Regions from separate parts of the Homo sapiens genome. Here region 1 is linked to region 2. Evidence: fine-mapped expression QTL. Tissue or cell type: minor salivary gland. Region 2 holds a variant in brackets; the other region holds the start of a gene. All regions are shown on one strand. Distances are between the middles of the regions.

What was found. PIP is the estimated chance that this variant, and not a neighbour inherited with it, causes the effect.
Region 1: it holds the start of TTLL12, and the variant in region 2 is fine-mapped to the expression of TTLL12 in minor salivary gland (GTEx, PIP 0.91).

Annotation. Positions count from the first base shown.
Region 1 is chr22:43,183,988-43,192,080 of GRCh38, forward strand. It overlaps TTLL12 (tubulin tyrosine ligase like 12), which reads right to left and starts at 3,147. Exons shown (of 14, transcript NM_015140.4): 1 at 2,906-3,147. The coding sequence starts at 3,082. RefSeq lists enhancers at 1,798-2,302, 2,243-2,322, 2,333-2,392 and silencers at 2,773-2,992, 3,033-3,192, 3,441-3,560.
Region 2 is chr22:43,214,708-43,222,805 of GRCh38, forward strand. SCUBE1 (signal peptide, CUB domain and EGF like domain containing 1) reads right to left here. Exons shown (of 22, transcript NM_173050.5): 12 at 7,931-8,035; 13 at 6,466-6,582; 14 at 5,743-5,880; 15 at 3,548-3,751. Among named protein-coding and RNA genes, the nearest start is that of SCUBE1-AS2, 6.1 kb to the left of the region's middle. RefSeq lists an enhancer at 5,540-6,041. The variant T/C (reference allele first, on the strand shown) is at 4,848.

The sequences.
Region 1 (8,093 bases), 31 kb before region 2:
ACTGGGAGGATTAGGTGATTCATACCCAGAACTCAGAGTGGAGCCTGGCCACAGCAAATGCTCTATAAACACGTGGCGCCATTGTTACACTTCTGAGACTGTTTCTTCACTTGTGAGAGGGGGTGTCATCCACCTTTCAGGACACTGATGGAATGAAATCAAACAGCGTGCATAAAGTCCTGGCGCACAGTGGAGGCTCAACAAAGGCCAGTTCCTCCCTAAAACGTATTTCCCACTACTCGATTAAAAACGGCAGTTGGAAACTAGCTAAGTACTCAGGTGCAGGCAGCTTTTGTGCACTGGGCAGGACTTGCCCTTTGGTGGCGTGAGGATGAATCACTCAAGGTCTCGCTCAGGAAGCTCAGGCTGAGTAAGGTCTAGGCCACCTAAGAGTATCAGGTAAATTGCTCTGGGGCCTGGAGGGCCTGGGAAGACTTTATGGATGAGGAACCATAACCAGAGGCCAGCTTTGAAGAAGGGGAAGATTTAAACATGAGGCTACGGGGTGAGGATGGAAAGGAACTCCACGCAGAGGGAAGAGTAAGAGCGAAGGCCTGGAGGCAGATAGCCCAGGGTGGAGCAAACCAGGGGTCACATGAGAGACAAGGCACCTGAGACAAGAGCCATCCAGTTCTCCTTTAGCCCTCAAGGTGGGTCTGGGGAGGCTACTGCCTTCTCCAGTTTAGGGCTGGGGGGAGGCTCAGAGGGCTGGAATCCAGACCTCGGGCTTCCGCCCCAGTACTCCAAATCCCTAGGGGACAGCGTGAGGCTGAGGGTCAGAGAGCCTGTCTCAAGCCTGGCCTGGATTCAACCCAGCTGTGAAATGGGGTGCTGGGTTTCTCCTTCACCACAACCCCTTCATGGCAGGACTGGAAGAGCTCCCCAGGAGATAAGGGGAGTGGTTTTGCAACTGGGAAGCTTGTGCAGACAGAAGAGTAGACATTTTAAAAACATCTCTTCGGCCGGCCGTGGCGGCTCACGTCTGTAATCCCAACACTTCGGGAGGCCAAAGCGGGCGGATCACGAGGTCAGGAATTCGAGATCAGCCTGACCAACATGGTGAAGCCCCATCTCTACTAAAAATACAAAAATTAGCTGGGTGTGGTGGCGCACGTCTGTAATCCCAGCTACTCGGGAGGCTGAGGCAGGAGAATCATTTGAACCCGGGAGGCAGAGCTTGCAGTGAGCCGAGATCATGCCACTGCACTCCAGCCTGTGTGACAGAGCAAGACTCCGTCTCAATTAAAAAAAGAAAAAAATTATATATATATATATATATATATATATATATATATATATATATATATATATATGTATGTATCTTCAAGTTTCCCCATCCTTTCCAGGGCAGCCGGCCTAAGGTGAGGCAGGAGGGCTGATGGCCAGGGGTGTAAGGGCCCACAGCGCTGGCAGGTGCTGCTGCTGCTGGCGGCCTCCTCCACACCTGGGCCAGTAGCAGCAGGAGGCTTCACTCAGGAAGAGCTGCAAGTTTGTGAATGGTAAAGCAGTGATTCAGCTCTGTCCTTAACGGCTGGGGAAGGGTCACGGAAAAACACTGGCTGCCCCTTAGTAGGGCAACAGCAGGCAAGGCGGCCTGGGCAGGGGACGTGGCACGGTGGCGACCACCCTCTGTGTGCCAGGCATATTTCTCATGCCACCTCCCATCCTTCCAATACTGTGGGAGCCAGATGGTGTCTCACCATCCCCTTCCCAGATGGAGAACAGGTCTCAGACGGGCGAGTGACCGCCCGAGGGAGGGCGTGCTGCCGTGGAGGCTGGCTGGGCAGGAGCTGGTCATTCCCACTGTGCTCCTTCCACGCAGCCCATGGGAACCTTTTTGTCCTCATGAACAAACCAAGGTCCCTTCCACCCAGCACAGGCCTGGGACCAGAGTGGTCCTCGGAAAGCATATGGCAGAAGTGAGGGGCAGAGGAAACTCTCTGTTACACTGTAGCATAAGGAGGTGCCACTCACTGCACGTTTCCAGCAGGAAGGTTCCTAGTCCAATCAGGATTACACAGAGAAAAACTGGCTCAGAGACCGTAGAGTCTGGCCAGCAGCCAGGCTCAGGGACTCCTAGTTCCCGGCCCGGGTCCCTGTTCTTGGCTCTGGGGTTTCCACTTCATCACCTGCGCCACTAGGCTCATCTCCGTCCGGGAGACAGCACCTGGAGGAGATGTCGGGTCCCAGCTAAAGAAAACACCCCCCCCCCCGCCAGCCCGGGAAGGTGCTGTGGCCTCAGCCTCTGGGCACGCAATAAAAATCCAGGGCTCATCCCCAGCCAGGACAGTGGGGAACGCTTTGGAGTGGAGGAGGCAGGTGAGCCGGATGGGCCGTCCTCACAAAAAGGGAGAGAACCTAGAGGCTTCTCAATCTTTTCCATTTTTCTTTAGATTTCTCCTCCACCTCTCACAGCCTGTTTTCTTTAACCTGCAAGATGAGGGGACCCCGAGGCTCAAATCAAATGAAAAAACACCGAATTCTGTGAACCCAACAGTTACAGCTACACAAATTCACGGGGTTCCCGTTGTCCCTGTGAGGCAGCGGCTGAAAGAATCCCTCTGAAGGGACTCTCGGAGCCGCAGTGTTCTCATCTGTGAAGTGGGGGTGATGAGTTTCACTCCTCGCAGGGCTGTGTCAGGCTCGGGTGTGTGGAGGACCTAAAGTTCCCAACGCAGCCCTCAGCCGGTCTCGGGCCCGGGCAGATCAGGGCCGCAGGTACCCCGGTCTCCTGCTGTCACTCTTCGGCCCCCAACTCCACGCCGCTCCAGAGCTGCCCAGGACGCGCTCTGGGTGGCTCACCGCGGCTCCCGCCGCCCGGGAGCGCTCTTCCCTGTCCCGCGCCGCGGGCTCCCGCCGCGCTCCCACCCCGGCCGCCGCACGTGCCCGCCGCCCTTCCCCGCACCTCGTGCTCCAGCTTGTGCAGGAGGCGGCCCCAGTAACGTTCGGGGACCCCCGAAGCGCGCAGCGCCGGGCCGTGCAGCGCCGCGAACTCGGCCAAGGCCTGCGCGCCCTCCTCCGGCGTCTGGCCCGGGCTGCTACGCTCCGCAGGCCGGCGCTCGGGACCCCGCTCGGCCTCCATGGCGCCAGCACCCGCGCCGACTCCAGCGCCGCCACCGCCGCCGCCGCCCGCCGTCCGTCGGCCCTGCCCTCCCGCCTCCGCCCCCTGCCCCGCCCCGCCCTCCTCCCAGCGCCCCCCCCCCCGCCCCGCCCTCCTCCCAGCCCCCCCCCGCCCCGCCCTCCTCCCAGCCCCCCCCCGCCCCGCCCTCCTCCCAGCCCCCCCCGCCTCCGCCCCCCGCCCCGCCCGCCTCCCAGCACCCCCGCCCCGTCCTCCTCCCAGCCCCCCGCCCACCGCCCCGTCCTCCCCCCAGCCCCCCGCCCCTGCCGCGCCCCCTGCCCCCGCCCCCTGCCCCCCTCCCCACCGCCCCGTCCTCCTCCCGGCCCCCCCGACCCCTCCCCTGCCCCGCCCTCTTCTCGCCCCCTCACCCCGTCCCGCCCCGCCCCCAGTCCGCCTCCAGCCCGGTTTGCCGCGGCCCCCGGGCAGGCCCTGCGCATCGGCGGGGTGCGTGCGAGAGCGCGCGAGCTTGCCAGGAGGGGGCGCGCGTCTGCGACCGCGCCTGTGGTTTGGCTGCCGCCGTGTGCGCACGCGCACCTGATGGTGGCTGAGCTTTTCTCGCTCAGCGCGCGGCGACCCCGGGGAATGCCGGGAGGGCGGGGTGCCTACGTATAGGGCGCTGTCAGGACCGGAAAAGGCCCCACCGACGGCCCGGAAGGTGTCCTGGGGCCCGAACCCGGTGAGGCGGCGCTTCTGTGCCTGCACCGGGCACACAGAGCTCGCAGGCCCCCTGCCTTGGGAGCTCTCGATTCTTGTGAGCGTTTCACCAGATTTGGATGCTGCAAAATCGTGGCCCTTCTCAATTACTTATATTTGGATTCGGAATGTCAGTTGATCCAATTAAGACCAAGTGTACCCGTCAGAGGAATTTACTCCTACATGTCGGGATGTTTCGAAGTGCAGTTGAGCTGGGCGTGGTGGCCGCGTCTGTAGTCCCAGTTACTCGGGAGGCTGAGGCGGGAGGATAGCTTGAGCCCAAGAATTCAAGTCCAGCCTCGGCAACATAGCCAGACTCCCTCTTTAAAAGAAAACAGTTCAGTTATAGAATTTCAAAAGACATTCTCTTTTGAACTCTCATTGAGTTTTATTGCTCCATAGGGATACATTTCAATGTCTTCCTTTTTGCAATTTTGTAAGAATTGTAATTTGCTAAAAAACAAAGGCTGAAAATTTTTTGGAGCTTCAGATGCTATTTTGATAACATTTTTGAACTGAGTTTGAATAAAATGCACCAATTCACGGACTTGTTCAATTCCATTGTAGGAAGCAGGTGGGTCTGCAAAGGCAAAAATTTCCAAACTCAAGTTGGTGAGGGCTGCAGAGAAAAACATTTTATTTATTTATTTATTTTGGGATGGAGTTTTGCTCTTGTTGCCCAGGCTGGAGTGCAATGGTGCAGTCTCGGTTCACTGCAACCTCTGCCTCCCGGGTTCAAGTGATTCTCCTGCCTCAGCCTCCCAAGTAGCTGGGGCTACAGGTGTGTGCCACCACGCCTGGCTAATTTTTTGTATTCAGTAGAGACAGGGTTTCACCATGGCCAGAGGAAAACCCTGATTCCTCGGTTTTTGTTGTGGAAGCCAAGGCTGAGATTGTACCATTGCACTCCAACCTGGTCAACATAGCGAGACTCCATCTCAAAATAAATAATATAGTAAAACAGCATCACAATGCTAGGATGGGGCATGCTGGCTCACACCTGTAATTCCAGCACTTTGGGAGGCCAAGACAGGAGGATCACTTGAAATAAGGAGTTTGAGACCAGGCTGGGCAACAAAGCAAGACCTCGACCCTACAAAAAGAAATTTTTAATTAGCCAGGTATAGTGGTACACACCTAGTGCACCTCCCGCTTCCACAACCCTTCCATCGGTCCCGCTGGGGAAGACAGACTGAGTCTCAGTTGTGTCAGGTACTGGTCAGATTATGTGAACATTCCTGACCCAGCCCCTTTGACCAGGAGAATGTGAGGCTCTGACAGGGCAGTCCTCTTTCACATGCTCCTCCCCAAATGTAAACCCAGTTGTATCAGATCCCTACTTGGAACCCTTTGTGGTTCAACTCTTCACCTGAGCTCCAAGGCTCTGTGTGAGCTGGCACTGCCAACTTTTCCAGCCTCTTTTCATTACACTCTTCCCCTCACACTGTGAGTCCCTGTATCTCTGGTTGTCTTCAGCTCCTGGAAAGCATTGTGCTCTGTTTTCTGCCAGAAAGCCTTTCTCCCCATGCTCACTTTGTAAATCCTGACTCATTCTTCTCAGCTGAAATGTTGTCTTCTAAAGAGGCACTGAAGAATGTGTATTTAATCAACATAAAATTACTGCTCTGCTCCCATTACTGCCACCAACCCCCTCCCCCTCCAGACAATTGAAAAAAAGGAGAGAGAGAAACAGGGAAAAAAAAAAGAGTTTAAAAGTCCCTTCCATAGCCGGGCACAGTGGCTCATGCCTGTAATCCTAGCACTTTGGGAGGCCAAGGCGGGTGGATCACCTGAGATCAGGAGTTCGAAACCAGGTTGACCAACATGGTGAAACCCCATCTCTACTAAAAATACAAAATTTAGCCGAGCATGGTGGTGGGCACCTACAATCCCAGCTACTCAGGAGGCTGAGGCAGGAGAATTGCTTGAACCCAGGGGTGGGGGTATGGAGGTTGCAGTGAGCCAAGATCGCATCAACTCACTCCAGCCTGGGGGAAACTCCGTCTAAAAATAAAAAAGGCCCTTCCATCCTGAAAATCCAAGCCCAGGTTGACCTTTGGTCCCTGATAGCTTTTTGTTCTGAGAGCTTTGCCAAGGGTACTCATACAAAATGGGTTTTTCATACAACATGGAGCCTAAACCCAATACAATGACTTTGTGAAAGTTGATCATAAGAATTGGGTCACCAGGCGTGGTTGCTCACCCCTGTAATCTCAGCACTTTGGGAGGCCGAGGTGGGTAGATCACTAGGTCAGGAGTTCAAGACCAGCCTGGCCAAGATGGTGAAACCCCCGTCTCTGCTAAAACTACAAAAATTAGCCTTGGTGCGGTGCCTGTAACCCCAGCTACTTGGAAGGCTGAGGCAGGAGAATTGCTTGATCCCTGGTGGCAGAGGTTTCAGTGAGCCGAGATCGTACCACTGCACTCCAGCCTGGGCCACAGAGTGAGACTCCAACTCACAAAAAAAAAAAAAAAAAAAAAAAATTGGGTCATTCTTGTCATAATTAAAACAGAGTTGAGAAGCCAAGAGGGAAAAAGCATTTGGGGTGCAAGGCATTGTTCCCAAAATGTAATTCTCTGTAAGCCCGACTGCTGAAACTGCTTGTGGTAACCTAAAACCATTTATTGATAACTTCTGAGATAACTGACTGCAACTCTAGGACTAATAAGGCTCACCAAGCTGAGCTTACTAACTCCCCAAACCCTTACAAGTACCAGTGAACTTTCTCAAAGAGCAATATGTAACATTTCTTCTTCTTTTTTTTCTTTTTGAGGAAGGGTCTCACTTTGTTGCCCAGGCTAGAGTGCAGTGGCCAGTGACGCAATCATAGCTCACTGCAGCCTTGAACTCCTGGGCTCAAGCAATCCTCCCACCTCAGCCTCCTGAGTAGCTAGGACTACAAGCATGTGCCACTATGCCTGGCTAATTTTTAAGTTTTCTGTGGAGACAGGGGTCTCATTGTGTTGCTTAGGCTGGTCTCAAACTCCTGGCCTCAAGTGATCCTTCTGCCTTAGCCCAGAGCACTGGGATTGTAGGCATGAGCAACTGTGCCTGGCCCATTTCTCTGTTTTAAATAAAACTTCTAACCTTCTCTTTGTTCTTCGGACAAAGCAAAGACCACCTGGTCTGTAGGTGCACCCTGAATGGCAGTTCCTTCTTCACAAATAAAACATTACATTTAGGCCAGGCATGGTAGTTCATGCCTGTAATCCCAACACTTTGGGAGGTCAAGGTGGGCAGATTGGTTGAGCCCAGGAGTTTGAGATCAGCCTGAGCAACACAGTGAAACCCCATCTGTACAAAAAATACAAAAATTAGCCAGGTATGGTCGTGGGTGCCTGTAGTCCCAGATATTCGGGAGGCTGAGGCGGGAGGATTGCTGGAGCCCTGGAGGTTGAGGCTGCAGTGAGCCATGACTGTGTCACTGCATTCCAGCCTGAGCAACACAGTGAAGCCCTGTCTCAAAAAAACAAACAAAAAAACAAAAAACTACACACATTAAGTTTACAGAGCTGTCTCTACATTTTTGATTTTGACATACATGGTGTCAGCAGTGGGACCAAGCACTGAACCACTTTGGGGAGAATCTCACACTGGGGCCCTCTGACACCCTTCTACCTTTGTGAGTCACCTCTTCTCCCACCTGGTAAGTCTCTCTTGGACAGAACTCCTGAATTTGGTTTGAGTTCTCTCTTATTTGGGAAATGGCTGGGGAGGTGACTTTCCCTGTCCTGTGTGGGATATCTGCTGTTGGGGAGGGTTATTTTCCTCCTGTTGATCTCAGCTGTGAGGTCTGGATCTTGAGGTTTGGATGAGGGGATTTTTTTCCCCTCATTTGAAGATGACTATTATTCTTCCTGGTGAGTACATACTTATATTTTCTGTCTGTTTGTGTTTCTTTGGCCTTTGTGTACTCAACATTAAACTAAATCACCTTACTTGCTGGATAAGCCACTAAAAAAAAAAAAAAAAGGGAAAAAACCAATCTCAGTCACCTAGATATATTTAGTTAAAATGAGGTCTCAAAGTTCAAAGGCATGCCAAATTTTCTAGGACTCCAGCTAGTAATATATTCAAACATTATAGGGATCATTCAGTTTATTCTTTAAATTAAAAGACCATGGTTATAAAATCATACACTCTAAGTATGTATTTCTCATTGATACCTTGAGGCTAAAAAACAAGTCCATTCAGGACTCAAAGATTGCCTTCCTACAAAACACTGAGTCAAAGCTAGCTGAAACTGTTCCTTTCTGGAGCCTCCCCAATCCTTACAATTCC
Region 2 (8,098 bases):
GGGCAGGAGGGCCTGGCGGGCGAGGTGGGAGGGGCGTAGCGAGGAGATGATGGGCTGAAGACAGCGCAGTCTGGTTGGCTACACTGAACAAATACGTCGACTGATGAGTAAGTAAGGAAACTGAGTAAATCAGTAAATTCAGGAGAAAGGGAGCCGAGTTTCTCAGTGCTGGAGAAGATGCTTACAAATGCGGAAATGGGGAGTGAAGGTTAGAAAAGACCCTGAGGTGTGGAACGGGAGGCACTGGCATGAATTCATGGTTTTAGAACCCCCCCACCCATAGATTCCCATGCCTGTGTGTGCACGTGTATACACATCTATGCTTTCCAGTTCTGTCCGATGAGAGGGCCTAGAGGCAGTGGTACTCCAGGAGCAATGAATATCCCAGATTTTGGTTTCTACCCATCATCCTCCTCTCAAAGGAACCAGGGGTCCTTGGGGATTTGGCTGATGCCAGGGGATGGAGAGTGTCAGTTGGATCTGAAGGGGAGGCTCGCAGCATGTGTGTGGCAGGTCAGACAGACCCAAGAGCCAGCTTGGTGGGGCATCCCTGGCTACCCTGGGGACACAGTGAGCGCCGAACTAAATAACATCAGGAATGGATCACCACGCAATGAGTAAGGGGAATCTGAGTCTATAGGGATACAGACCCAGAGGTAAACGGCCATGGCCACCCACTTTCCTACAGGAGAATGTGACTAGTGAGCGTGGAACATGGAACAAATGGTAGAGGTGGCTGACATGGCGGGAGCTGTGCAGAAGTTTGATGAGGAGGAGAATATTGGTCCAAACTCAGAAAACACTCATCAATCACAGAGAGAAAATGGCGAGTGAAAGTGAAGCCAGTGGCGGGCTGGGGGTATCCTGTGCCTGCTGATGGGGCACCCAGGATTAGGCCTCGAAGCTGAGGTTCCTGCTGGACCCTGGGCCCTGAGTCAGGTCCCCAGGAAAAACCAGAGGGAGCTCTGAGCGTTAGCCTAGAGGAGGTGAGTTTGGGACAAGGGCAGGAGAGGCAGGGAAAGGGGAGAAGCGGCTCCAGACTGAAGGAGCCTGAAGACACAGTGGAGGGTGACATGTCTTTCTGGATGGGAGCTGGGACCAGAAAAACAAAAGGGACATTGTTGGAAGGATTGCTGGAGCTGAATGGGGTGGGTGTGTGGGTTGGATGGTGAAGACTACACACTCACACATGCATGCACACTCACACACATGCACACGTGTGGGAGACGGGGCAGATGTGGTCAAATGTGCACAATTGGGGAATTTGGATGAAGAAAATATGGAAGTTTTTTGTTCTGCTTGACAATGTTTCTGAAACTTTGAAATAATTTCAAAATAAGTTATTTATTTTTATTTTGGGATGGAGTCTCGCTCTGTCACCCAGGCTGGAGTGCAGTGGTGTGATCTCAGCTCACTGCAACCTCTGCCTCCCAGGTTCAAGTGACTCTCCTGTCTCAGCCTCCCCAGTAGCTAGGATTGCAGGCGCTCGCCACCACACCCAGCTAATTTTTGTATTTTTAGTAGAGACGGGGTTTCACCATGTTGGCCAGGCTGGTCTCAAACTCCTGACCTCAGGTGATCCACCTGTCTCGGCCTCCCAAAGTGCTGGGATTACAGGCGTGAGCTACCATGCCCGGCCCAAAATAAGTTATTGAAAGTAGAAGAGGCTGGGCGCAGTGGCTCACACCCATAATCCCAGCACTTTGGGAGGCCGAGGTGGGCAGATCATGAGGTCAGGAGTTTGAGACCAGCCTGGCCAACATAGTGAAACCCTGTCTCTACTAAAAATACAAAAATTAGCCGGACACGGTGGCGCGCACCTGTAGTCCTAGCTACTTGGGAGGCTGAGGCAGTAGAATAGGTTGAACCTGGGAGGCAGAGTTGCGGTGAGCTGAGATTACACCATTGCACTGCAGCCTGGCTACAGAGCGAGACTCTGTCTCAAAAATAAAAACAAACAAACAAAAAAAGAAAGTAGAAGATGACATCACCAAGCTCCCTTTGTCCCCCCTTGTCAGTACGGCTGTCCCCCTCCACTGTCTGAGCCAGAGTCCCAGCTTCCCCAACCTGGCCCTTCCCCTGCCAGGTGTCATCTCTTTACCAACAGCTTCCCCGCCCTCTCCAGGTGTCACCTCTTTATCAACAACTTCCCCCCACCCACCCCCCGCCAGGTGTCATCTCTTTACCAACAGCTTCCCTCCCACCCCCACTGCCAGGTGTCACCTCTTTTCCAACAGCTTCCCCCAACACTGCCGTCACCTCTTCTCTAACAGCTTCCCCCCACCCCGCCAGGTGTCACCTCTTTACCAACAGCTTCCCCACCCCGCCAGGTGTCACCTCTTTACCAACAGCTTCCCCACCCTGCCAGGTGTCACCTCTTTACCAACAGCTTCCCCCAACCCCCACCCCCCATCCGCCAGGTGTCACCTCTTCTCCAACAGCTTCCCTCCTCCCCCGCCAGGTATCATTTCTTCTCCTCCGGCTTCCCAGTTTACACCCCTGGCCAACCCTATTGTTTGAGGCTTCGGACTTGTGGCTGCAACTGCCCATCCAACATCTCCATGTGGATGACTTGTGAGCGTCTCAGACTGAACATGTCCAGCCTGCGCACCCCATCCCCGCAGCCCACTCTTCATCAAGTTTCCCTCCCCCCAGCCCACTCTTCCTCAAATCCTTGGGGATTTGGCCGGCGTCAGGAAGCGATACCACCTCTGCCCAATTGGCCAAACCCTTGGAGTCGTCCTTGAAGTCTGTCTCTCCCTAGGAGCCCCCTCCATCTCATGCTCCTCCCCGTCCTTGCTCCGCCCCCGCTACTCAGCCTTCCCGTAAGAGCGCGCATGAGCCTGCGTCCTTGCTCTAAGCATTCCTATGGCTCCCCATCCAACTCAAGAGTGGTGTCTGCCAGGCCCCATCACCTCTGGCCTCACTGTACCTGTGGGCATGTTCACTGGCCCACTGTCCATCTTCCGCACGGGCATGTGAGCTCCACTAGAACTAGGACTGTCTCGTGTGCTGGTTCTGCCTGTCCTGCGTCCAGGCTCTCCCCTCCAGCGCACACCCGCCCGCTGGGGGCCGGCCTCACCTGCTTCCCTGCAGCACGACGCTGCCCTCCTGGGCGGCCCTAGGCCTCACGACATCCCTGCTCTGTCCCCCGACCCTGACTCAGGCTCCCCAACTCCTGGAGCCCTGAGGTCTTAGCTAACGTGACTTCTCCTCCAGGAAGCTTCCCTGAACCACATCCCAGACTAGAGAGGGCCTGTTCTGGTTCCCGTGCCCCCTCGCGCCCCTCGACTGTGGCCTTGCTGTCCTGTCCACTCCTTGTCCCTCCTCAGACTGTGATCACATGCCCGAGGCCCAGCACAGAGGAGTGCTCTTCAAATGACAGTGATGACCATGAGGGCTGCAGTCCTTCTCCCCGGCAGGCCTCTGCATCTCTCTGTCCCCTCCCCAGGTGTCTGTCTCACCTGCGTGCCCACCACTGTTTACCCCGGCTCATGTGCAAGGAAGGACAGAGTCAGCATCTGAGTGGCCATGGGCAAGGACTCACCGCATTTGCTGTCCTGTAGCACCTGGCCTGCGCCACATGCCCCCTGCCCCTCCAGCGCCTTGGCTGGCCTCTGGGCTACCTCGTACTCAGTGCCTGAGACCTGGACATAGAACTGCTGCCGGCCGATGGACTTGCGCAGGGTCTTGATGGCGGCCTGCAGGCTCTGTTCTGCTCGCTTCCGCAAGCAGTCCGCTTCGCATGTGTCTGCAGGGGCAGGAGAGACAGAACATGAATCGCTGGCAACCTTGCTAGCCGCTGCCTTCTTAGCTGAGGGCTCCCCCGTGCCAGGCCCTGCACTGGGCTCGGACCTCCTCAGCACATTCTCACAACAGTCCTGGGGCAAGGGGCCACTGTCATGCCCATCTGACAGATGAGGAGGCTGCGGACCTGGGAGGCAGGGCCTGCCCACGGCCACGCAGCAGATCTGAGTGCAATCCAGGCAGCTGCCACTGCACCACATCACCCCCCAGGGTACGACTCACGGGGCAAGAACGCCTTTCTGTCACTCAAAGACTCTTGGGGACTGCCACTGTCCCCAGGATAGTGTCCAGCTCTCTGGCCTTGAATCCAAGGCCCTTCAAGGTCCAGCCCCGTATGGCCTTGCCAGCCTCATCCCCTCCACTCTGACACTCCCTGTGGATTCCAATGTCTAGCCACCTGGCCCTACTTACTGCTTCCTGGACACCTCCTCCTCTCTCTGACCTCTGTGCCTTTGCCTATTCTATTCCCTCTGCCTGAATGCCATTCCTTGCCACCTTTTCCACCCAGTGAGCTTTGATTCTAAGCTCTCATTCAAATGGCACCTCTTCTGGGAAAGCTTCCTGATATGGTTTCAATATTTGTCTCTTCCAAACCTCATGTTGAAATCTGATCCCTAATGCTGGGGGTGGGGCCTGGTGGGAGGTGTCTGGGTCATGGGGTAGGTCCCTCATGAATGGCCTGGTGTGGTAGTCAGTTCTTGCTGGCTCTACTAGTCGCCACGAGATGTGACTGGTGAAGACATAGGCACCCCCTCCCCTCTCTCTTGCTCCCTTACTCTTGCTATGTGATGCCAGCTGCTCTTCACCTTCCTCCGTGAGCAGAAGCAGCCTAAGGCCTCGCCAGGCAGATGCTGCTGCCGTGTTCTCGGACAGCCTGCAGAGCCGAGAGCCAATAAGCTCTTTTCCTGATAAATTATGCAGCCTCAGGTGTTCCTTTTAGCAACGCAAATAGACTAAAACATTTCCTTTTTTTTTTTTTGAGATAGAGTCTCACTCGTCGCCAGGCTGGAGCACAGTGGCGCGATCTCAGCTCACTGCAA[T/C]CTCTGCCTCCCAGGTTCAAGCGATTCTCCTGCCTCAGCCTCCTGAGTAGCTGGGATTACAGGTGCCTGCCACCACACCTGGCTAATTTTTGTATTTTTAGTAGAGACAGGGTTTCACCATGTTGGCCAGGCTGGTCTTGAACTCCTGAACTCAAGTGATCCACCCACTTTGGCCCTCCCAGACTGCTGGGATTACAGGCGTGAGCCAGTGTGCCCAGCCAGACTAAGACATTTCCTAAGCCCTCCCGTGGGGGGCAGACCTCAGTTCTATGCATTGTTTGTTCTTGTGCCCCCACCACCGAGAGTCCCACCTGGCAATGGGTGGTTTGCACGTGCGTCTGCCTCTCTGGCTGAGAGTGTTACCTGGGTGGGGACTTTTCTTTCCACAGCGCCCAAGCCCACAGCCAGGCCCATACCACACTTATCTGCTGACAGATCCCATCTCTTCAACATCAACGACTCACAGGTTGACACTCACATATAGCCAAGAGCAAAGTGCTGCTGTGACACCCGAGCCAGCATTAGAACCTCCTTCAGGAACCAGGAAAGACAATCCTTGGCTCAACCATTCTAGGGGGGCTGCACCTATTTGTCCTCCCGGGTCCCAGCAGGAGTGTGGAGGGGCAGATAAGGGTCATGTGACTTTTGAGGTCACCTCGGCTCTTCTGTCTCATTGCCCTGGGCTGCCTCTTCTATCCTGGGCTGCAAGCGTTGACCCCTGCCAGCTCCCTTTGCTTGTGGGCCTGCCTCTGTCTCCAGAAGCTGGGCTCCCATCCCAGCCACAGCTGTGCTCTGGTGGGAGCCTAGCTTCATGCCTGGCAGGCCCCCGGCAGCGCCACCAGCCTGTCGTCCTCCTTCAGGCCTGCAGAAGCCCCCAGGAGAACCCCTCACCTACCTGAGGCCTCTTCCATCTTTGTCTCGATCTCAAACTCTGCTGTGATGTGGGACACCTCCTTGGATGGGGACTTGCGGCCACGGCGCCTCTTCTTGGAGGAGTCACACTTGAGGGTCACGAAAGTCACATGGCAGTGGTCTGGACGAGGAAAGGACCACTGTGGCAAAGGCGGCATGGGGCAGGGAGCAAGGTCCTACCAAGCCCTGCATACAGAGTGCCATTGGCAAGGACTTCCTGGTCCGTGGTGCAGACGGAAAAACTCAGGCTAGAGAAGGTCAGGGCTGGCTCGGGGTCTCAGGAGGGGCTGGTGGCTGAGCCAGGTCTCACGCCCGGTCCATCACGCTGCTGCAGGTGGAGGCATCTCATACATATTCATGAATGAGGCTGTGCCCCCAGCTCTGGGCCTGCTGAGGGTTTGGCCAGTGCAGACTCGGCTCTGGGCAGAGCCTGCTGCGTGCTGAGAGCTCTGTTAGGTTTGAGAAGGAATCTTCACGGGGACAGAGCTGGTGCCTTCCTCCGGGGCCCCTCGTACCAAGCTTGCCCTCCGCTGTTTCCCCAGCCTGCAATGTCCTTGGAAACTCTCATTCAATAAACAGCTGCCAGGTGAGAGAGACCTCCACCCTTGGAAACCAGACTCGCTGGACCCTGGGGCCCCAGCTCCCAGGCATGAGGACTCTCCTACAGCCCCGTTGGTGTGGGTTAGGAGCAGGGCGTCCCACTCACCCAGCAGCGGCTGCCTGGCGGTCTCCTTTGCTCGTGCCTGGCTGTGGGGCCGGAGGTGGCACTTGGCATCTCGGATCTTGAAGCGGGCCTTCTGTTTGATGGGGGTGGTGGGGGCATCTGGGGAAAGCCAAAATTCCCCCAGGTGGTGGCCTCTCCTGCAGGCAAGGAGGTGGTGGGGGACGGGGGCTGCCAGGGGACAAATCCATCTGGAGCTGGGGGTGGGGCTTGATCTGAGTCCCTGTGCCCCGACAGCTCTCCTGGGGTGGGGGACCCTCTCCTGCCCCATTTCTCTCCCTGCAAGGCCTAAAACAGGTGAACACATGGATGGTGGGGTCAAGCTCAAGCCCAGGGGCCACCCGCCAGAGGTCTTCTGAGAAGGAGGACAGGGATCCTCCTACCTCCTCCCCATCAGCAAGCCATGATTGTGCTTTAGGAAAGAGCGTAGAACAGAAGAGAGATAGGACAGCAAGGAAGGGAAGGGGCTTTGAAATACTATAGATCCAGGACTGCCGGTTCCTTGCAAGAGCAAATCATAGCCCTTGGACTAAAGAATCCTACCACCACAGGTGCTTAGAATCAAATCACATATGCATTAAATATATAGAAATGGGCAGGGTGCGGTGGCTCACGCCTGTAATCCTAGCACTCTGGGAGGCCGAGGCAGGCGGATCACTTGAGGTCAGGAGTTCCAGACTAGCCTGACCAACATGGTGAAACCATGTCTCTACTAAAAATACAAAAATTAGCCAGGTGTGGTGATGGGCACCTGTAATCCCAGCTACTCAGGAGGCTGAGGCAGGAGAATTGCTTGAACCTGGGAGGCGGAGGTTGCAGTGAGCCGAGATCACGCCACTGCACTCCAGCCTGGGTGACAGAGCGAGACTCCGTTTTAAAAATAATAATAATAATAATAAAGAAACATACAGAAATGCACCTATCTATCAAATCCAGCATCCTGAATAAGAAAAGCTGCTGAAGACACAACCCTCAGCTCCTTAGCTGGCAGGAGCTAAGGCTGGCTGTGCCATGCCGACCAAGCCCAGCGGGTCACTCCCAAAGGGCTGGGACTGTGCTGCACCTCGGCGCTTCTTGGCATGCTCTGCACGGCCAGGCCAGCTCTGACTCGGGAGAACCTAATAGCCACAGCAGATGTGGCTTGCTCCACCCATACAGTCTGAGATCTGTGCACTCACAGCACGTTAGAGTCCCTGAACCACTCTGGCTGTGACCTCAGAGCCGGAAGGGCCCTCCCACGGTCCCCTGACCCTGGGCTAGAACTCGGCCTGCAGCCTGCTGGCTTCTAGGTCCTGGGCCTGGCTCATCGCCAGCACCCCAGGCCACACGGAGCAGGGCCGAGAGCAGGAAGGTCTTCCCTGGGCGGTGCCCTTTCCTCCCCCGCCAGCATGTTGCTGGATGCAGTCAAGTCACCCAGTGGCATGCAGCATGGACAGGCCGGGGGGGTTACCTGAGCAGCTGGGCCCGAGGCCAGAGCTGGTGCCGTTGCGTTTCTGCAGCGCCTTGCCCTGCGGCCCTGGAACTCCGCAGCTCAGGACGTAGCTATTTTCCGAGTCTGCAGAGAAGCCGGTGGGTGAGGTGGGCCTGGTGCTCCTCCCTCCCACGGCCCTCAGATTCT